Homo sapiens: one gene and its partner. The protein of the gene in region 2 purifies or fractionates together with the protein of the main gene of each other region. This does not show direct contact. Each region holds a gene or a part of one and is shown on either strand. Other genes may lie near its edges. The genes, in order: PAX5 and NTRK2.

Region 1 (3,821 bases), about 48 Mb from region 2:
CCCCACCTCCTCCTCTCCTCCTCTCCTCCTCATGGTGGGACACAGATCCATAATGAAGGAAAATGAGCTCTCTGAAGAAAAAAACCACATCCTCTTTCTCCCCAGGGTACCCAGCCCTTTTTCTGCCTCATGGTCGAGGTTCAGGCCATCCCTGATGACCAAGCTCAACATGCTCAGAAGCACAAACCAGCCCCTTCCCAGGAACAGGATGCCCACAGGAGAAGGCAATGCTGTTCGGCCCACCAGCCTGGAGAGGTGCCACCACTGAGGGGGCAAAGCAGCTGATGAGAGCAGGAGGCATTTCTAGTGGTTTTCTCTGTTAGACAAGGGGCAGATCTTCTCCCAGTTTAACCTCCTGTGACCTTTGAACTCCCTGGGAGGTCAGCAGCACATCCCCTTCCCCAGCTGTCTCTCTGTCTCTGGCCCAATGGGAGGGAGGGCCCTGGCCCGTTCCATTTTGCACCCGTATTGATCTATTGGCAGCAATGGGATGGATAATTAGCCAGGAATTAGGGTTTCTATTACAGCCAGGAGGCTGCTCCAGCTGATTTATCACCTGAATAATTTACTGTGATTGAAAGGAAATTAAAATGAACTCCATTTGACAACTGTGAGCTTTTATGGGCTTTAGTGAAGGCTCAAAAGCCAGATTAATAGCCTGGTGTTGGTTAATAGTCTGCCGAGAGTAAATACGGCAGGCTATGCTCCGTAGCCTTCCTGTGGCCGCCGGAGGAGGGACCCGCTCCCAACAGGAGCGCTGCGCCGACGACAACGTCAACGGGAGTTTTACTGAAACAGATACCACTGTTGGAAACATACACACACACACGCACGCACATACACACGTGCACGCACACACACTCGCCACCAGCAGCTTTCTTTTCTTTTCTTCCTCCAACGTGATTTTTACTCACTCCATATGTAGGGAAAACAGAATTGCTTTTTCAATAACCGTTTTGAAAAGGAAGTGTTTCATTGCCCAGGCGTGGTCAACATTAACGCCTTCCACCCAGGGCAAAGCGTTTACTACATTTCCCTACAAAAGCCAGCAGCCTGGGCCCACCCACCCAGGTAGATCTTGGCGGGAAAAGCTGCAAGTGGGGCAGGCTCCGAGCTAACAGCAGTAACTGTCAGGACCCCTGCCTGGCCCCAATGAGGAATGTTCTTCCCATGGGAGACAGGGTGGGAGGATCCGGGAGGATGTGGCCTCTCCAAACCTATGGCAAGTTCTGAGAGTTCTGGATGACAGGCAGACTCTGACTGAAATAGGCCAGGTCTGGAAACCAGCTAGCCAGAAAACTGGCCCCTGGAATCGTCCTGGACCTGGAGGCCCATGGAACCATCTTGCATGAGATGAAGACAGAAGACCCTGAGATGAGATTCCAGCTCTGCGGTTCAACAATCTTGGAAACTCCTTGAATAAACAATCTGTGAAAAAAAATGTTCTAGTCTATACAATGGGGCTCCCGAATCATGCCCAGCCTGTTTGGCAGGCATTTGCCTCGGGGGTCCAATGAGAGGATGGATGTGAACGGTCTTTGTGAACTGAACGCTGTGGTGTGTAGGTGAGGAGGATCGCTGTCGTCACGTTCGGTTTCGGCTGCTGCAGCTGTTCTTGTTGTTGTCGTCATCAAAATCATGATCACTTCTACCACAGATATGGAAACTGAGGCCCAGAAAAATAGTGACTTGCTCGGCAGGGCAGAGCTAGGACTCAAATCAAGCTTCCCGACCCCAAGGCCAGTAAGTGCTCTTTGTTCCCCACCAAGCTGCTCAGCGAAAGTGACAGCAAGGCCCCCATCCAGGGCACTAGGCCACAGAGACACACACTGAGACAGCTCAATCTGCTCGAAAATGGAAGAGGCAGCCAGCCTCCGCGGCCAGCACCTCAGGCCCCCTTCCTGTCACCACCGCCATGCCACGCTGGGGCTCACAGGCGAGGCCTGTGGAACATTCACCTCTTGGAGAGCTAGCATGAGGGGCTCAAGGAACCTGTACCCTTGACTGACATCCCTTCCCAGCCTGCGGCCCCTTGCTCAGGCATCATTTGTCCAAAGTGATTGGGAATCGGGCACGAGGGTATGTCATTCATAGTCCAGTGCCTGTGTGTGGGTGCAGGGCAGCCCCGTCTCCTCACCTTCCATCTCTCCTCATTAAAACACATTACAGGGAGGTGAAGCAGATTAACCAGAAAACACTGGGTCAGTCATTATCCTGCCACACAGTTCGCCTGCAGTCGCCGTCTCAGAGCGCACAGTCAGAGACAGGCCTGCAGACGTGCCTGCTCATTCTGAAGGACACTGGAGATGCTGAGTCCTCACAGAGTTTGTAATCAGGTCTCCTCCCCATCAGACCCCATCTCTCCATGAGCCCATGGGACCTGTCCTTCAAGCCCCCCATCCAACACTGCCCCCTCAGTGCCATTGTCCTTGATGCTCCCAACCCAGGTAACATCCCCCTCTCTGGCTGACACCTCATCAGGACCCTCTGAACAGTCTCTCTTGTCCTGCGGGCTCTGAGTCCACAGCACGCTGCCCCTGCGAGACTGGACAGAGCTGATGAGCACTTGGCACTGTGCCTGGCTCCCAGCCCACGTTCAGGGAAGAAGTTAGAGGAGTGGCATGTGAGCAGGTGAGTGAGTGAATCCATGGGCGGCTTCCAGACCACTCAGGGATGAGGTCTTGCAGGCTGCGTGGTCTTCCTGGGCACTCTGAGCTAAAGGAGTTATGGTGCAGATTCTGAGTCTCCATGACGGTCATGTGAAACACAGAGGGAGTCTCACACGGAGTGTCTGTGTGAATAAGGGGTTCACAGAAACACTTGTGCTGCAGAGGCCAGGTGGAGTGCAGAGGCCTGGATCCCCGCTCTTCCCTGTTCACTTGCTGGGTGACCTCAGACATGCCCTGTCCTCTCTCTGGGCCTCTAAAAAAACAACAGGTTGAAATCTTGCCTCTGTGGCTCCTGTTACCCCTAAAATTACATGATCTTGTCAGCCATTAGAAGATAAACTTTCTGGCCGGGTGCAGTGGCTCATGCCTGTAATCCCAGCACTTTGGGAGGCCGAGGCAGGCGGATCATGAGGTCAGGAGATCAAGACCATCCCGGCTAACACGGCGAAACCCTGCCCCTACTAAAAAATAGAAAAAATTAGCCGGGCATGGTGGCGGGTGCCTGTAGTCCGTCCTACTCGGGAGGCTGAGGCAGGAGAAAGGCGCGAACCCGGGAGGTGGAGCTTGCAGTGAGCCGAGATCGCGCCACTGCACTCCAGCCTGGGCGACACAACAAGATTCTGTCTCAAAAAAAGAAAAAAGATAAACCTTCTGGCTGGGCGCAGTGGCTCACACCTATAATCCCAGCACTTTGGGAGGCCAAGGAGGGTGGATCACCTGAGGTCCGGAGTCCAAGACTAAGCCTGGCCAACATGGTGAAACCCCATCTCTACTAAAAATACAAAAAAATTAGCCGGGCGTGGTGGCAGGCACCTGTAATCCCAGCTACTCAGGAGGCTGAGGCAGGAGAATCACTTGAACCTAGGAGGTGGAGGTTGCAGTGAGCTAGGATCACACTACTGCACTCCAACCTGGGCAACAAGAGCAAAACTCCAGCTCACAAAAAAAAAAAAAAAAAGAAGATAAACTTTCTTCCACATTCTGGAGGGAAGGACAGGCCTCATCCAGGAAGGTTTCCTGATCGAGGCCCCTCTCACTCTCCTCCCGTGTCAGAGAAAATGTGCCTTCTGCCGTCTCTCAGAAGGGCTCTGAGCAGAGCAGAGAGGGTGCTTGTGATAGAAACAGACTCTCCTCCCTGAAGTCCAAGATCTA
Region 2 (3,821 bases):
CTTACACACGTGTAGACCCATGGCCATAGCTGGTATCAATATGCTGGTTAACACTCACTCATAGCACACATTCAGTGTGTGATTGCTGGAGTGAATGATTGAAATCATCAGCTGTAATCCTTTATCATTGTTAGTACAATCACTATGCCCAGTGGGTACTAAACTCATAATTTCTCATCATTTTGACCCACTCAGAAGCCTGAAGTCAATGTTATCTCCAAACATATGCAAGCACTTTCAACTGTATGTCCTTAAATCAGCACCTAACCCAAAATTCATTTGAGCATGGTGGAAGGAATGATGGGCCCTGGGTGTGGGGACCTGGGCTGGTGGGAGGAAGGTAAGTGTGGCCCCTGCCCCACTGTGGTCCTTGTAGTGGTTGGTTCATAGCACAGGTCTACAAGTGTGTGTATCTACACATGTATGGACCTTATTTTGTGTAATATATATATATGTACATTATATATATTATATATATATTATGTATATATATATGCATATGTATAATATATATAGGGTCTCCCCAAATTATATTTTAATTGAATTTTTATAGATGAAGTCACATATTAAAAACTTTTGTTTTCCAAAGACTATTTTAAGGAGGCCTGTGAGAGATATTTGGTAAAGCAAACAATTAAACTTTGCCCATTTAAATTTAGTAATATCACATTTCTCAGAGTGAGGGACATAGTCACAACATACATGTGCAGAGTTCAGCTGCACAGGTGCTCAGTTGAGAGGAATGTCACTGGTAACTGGAAATCTTTCCGTAAATTATGAAAGTGAATTGGGTCCTTTTATCGGCTTTGCTTCTTCCTAGGTAGTACTGTGGGAGGATTTACCTGAATACAAGTAAGGGGGTAATATCAGATTACCTGCTTTCTATTAAAAATATCCAAACTTGAGTTTTTTTCTCAGTTTCAGGTTAATATCTGTATGGTCACTAGGCTCTGAAAAATTGACCTTATCTGTCATAGTTTAGACAAAGAGCAGAAGCAATAAATTATAAATAATATTAACAACTGGCTGGGTGTGGTGGCTCACGCCTGTAATCCCAGCACTTTGGGAGGCCGAGGCGGGTGGATCACTTGAGATCAGGAGTTCAAGACCAGTCTGGGCAACATGATGAAACCCCGTCTCTACTAGAAATACTAATATTAGCCGGTCACGATGGCAGGCGCCTGTAATCCAAGCTACTCGGAAGGCTGAGGCATGAGAATCGCTTGAACCTGGGAGGCAGAGGTTGCAGTAAGCTGTGATCGTGCCACTGCACTCCAGCCTGGGTGGCAGAGTGAGAATCTGTCTAAAAAAACAAAAAACAAACTAAAAATATTAACAACCAAGATAACCAGTGCAGAGACCCCACTCAGAGGGTTTGTCTGTTCCCTGGCTACAATACCTTAGATTTTTTTCTCCTCTTGTTTGATGAACACATACAGTCAAGAAGCAGTGCCTGAGAGGGAAGGGCCACTGTATTAAACATCAGGATTCAAGATTCTTGTTCCAGATCTGCCTTGCTCAGTAACCTTGATGAGCTCACTTAACCTCATTGCACTTTGGTTTCTTCATCTGAAAAAAATGATGCTATTAGATCTCAAAGGTCTTTTCCAGTCCTTGATTTTGTAATTACCAAAGCCAGACTACATTAAAATGAACAGATGAAGCATTTTAAATACCCTCACTTAGGATAAGTACTCTGTTTAAAAATTCTACTTGATAATGTTTGTTTCCCCAAAGCATAAAGTGCTTTATATCTAAAGTTGAAATAATCCCTACTCTGTCCAGGCTTAGATTGGACCCCAAACATTTAAAAGATCTAAACATTGGCATCTAGGATCCTAGCAAAAATGGACAACACTATCATGAAATGTGATACTTTCAAAGAGTATTTACTATTGACAATCAGTAATAAATGTTGATTTGTTATATTTATAATAATTCATCATCAGCAGCAACATTTATTGCATTGATCAGTTTGATCTGTTTTCGAAGTTATGTGAGATCAGGGCTTCAGGCAAAATTTTAAAAGTCATTTTTGTTATTTAGGAAAGAAGTGCTATCAAAAAGTATTCATTATTTTATTATTTTGAGTTTTTTTGGTGATGAATCTGTATAATATCAAGATACAGATATTAGAAACCAAAGTCAACTTCAAATGAACTCTTTCCGCTGTCAGAAATCTCTTGGATCTGTTTGGAGCTGGTTTTCACTTATACTGAATAGATTTGAGAAATGACTGTAATGCAGGGGTCTTAAGTAGAACAGAGAAAGGAGTCTCTCTGAAGCTCTCTTTGGGGAGTTACATCCACCCTGATGATGATACAAAATACTGATGGATTCCAGAGTTTCTGATGATGTGTTTTTCTAAGCCAAACAATGGTTGAGTAAAATTCCCTATCAATGACACAGACATCTCGAGATGGGGAGAATTCTGAGCTTTCTGATGCTATTAACTCTCTCTTTTTCAATTTAGTTGCACCAACTATCACATTTCTCGAATCTCCAACCTCAGACCACCACTGGTGCATTCCATTCACTGTGAAAGGCAACCCCAAACCAGCGCTTCAGTGGTTCTATAACGGGGCAATATTGAATGAGTCCAAATACATCTGTACTAAAATACATGTTACCAATCACACGGAGTACCACGGCTGCCTCCAGCTGGATAATCCCACTCACATGAACAATGGGGACTACACTCTAATAGCCAAGAATGAGTATGGGAAGGATGAGAAACAGATTTCTGCTCACTTCATGGGCTGGCCTGGAATTGACGATGGTGAGTAACTGACACTTTTGTATGTGGGGAGAAGATAAAGTCTATCATTCACCTGTTGACAAAATCATGTATACAATAAGCCATCCCCCAACCTAGTGGCTTAAAACTCCATTATTTAGTGTTGCTCATGGATCCATAGGTCAGCGGAGTGGTTTTATTTTGCATGTATTTATTGTGGAATTCAGGGTCATGAAGCAGCAGCTACATAGGAGATGTGCCTGTTATGATAAGTGTGGAGTGAAAGAGGACAACTGCAACGATGTGAGGCTTCCTAAGGCCTAGATTCAGGGCTGGTGCACTGGACTGTCTCTTCAGCTTATCTGCCATTGGCCAAAGCAAGTCACAGGGCCAAAGCCAAGTTAAGGGGCAGGGAGTTGTACTCCTCCCAAGAAGGTGATGAGGAAATTAATAATTTTGAACAGTTATCTGATACACACTGGATTAATAACTACTCCAGGATGCTTGGGTATCTTATGAGAAAAGGGTTATTATTATTATTTCCATCACTGTTGCAAGTATTTAATGAGATTTTGTACCCACAATGGCAAAACCCATGCAAAACCGCAAGCGCAGGAACTGTGTATGGTTGGCTCGTGATGCATTTAAGATTTATTTTCTAGCCTCTTACCTAATTCAAAAAGGAGAATTCTGGTTTCTCATCCATGGATGAGAAATTAGTGTCTTGGACTGTTTTGCTTACCCGGGCTGACTGAGCTGAGTGATTCTTTTATTGGCTCCGGAGCTGTTTTCCTAGGAGTGGTAATAGTGCTTCTCTGGCCAAAGGCTAGGACTGCGGAAAGGATGGCTAGCATCAGGGGTCTACTCTGGGCACAGCAGGAGCGTGTCAGTGTGAGCTTCAGGAACAGTGGGACAAGTGTCATGCATTTACCTGCTTCAGATGCTGTCCTTCAGTGGAGTGTTCTTACCTACTCAGTCTCATTGCCCAAATGCTTGCTACCAATGTGGTGGCCAAGGCCTGTGTTTGGATGTTGGGAGCTGTACATGAATAGAGTTCCTCATCAGAGTAGCTCTGAGTCAGTCA

What was found.
Region 1: the proteins of NTRK2 (region 2) and PAX5 purify together in Homo sapiens (affinity purification with western blotting; one study listed by BioGRID). This does not show direct contact.

What each region holds. Positions count from the first base shown.
Region 1 is NC_000009.12:36,960,985-36,964,805, forward strand, and holds part of PAX5 (paired box protein Pax-5), read right to left. Parts: intron 1-3,821. UniProt on the Homo sapiens protein: Transcription factor that plays an essential role in commitment of lymphoid progenitors to the B-lymphocyte lineage. Fulfills a dual role by repressing B-lineage inappropriate genes and simultaneously activating B-lineage-specific genes.
Region 2 is NC_000009.12:84,725,181-84,729,001, forward strand, and holds part of NTRK2 (BDNF/NT-3 growth factors receptor isoform a precursor), read left to right. Parts: intron 1-2,473; coding exon 2,474-2,779; intron 2,780-3,821. UniProt on the Homo sapiens protein: Receptor tyrosine kinase involved in the development and the maturation of the central and the peripheral nervous systems through regulation of neuron survival, proliferation, migration, differentiation, and synapse formation and plasticity.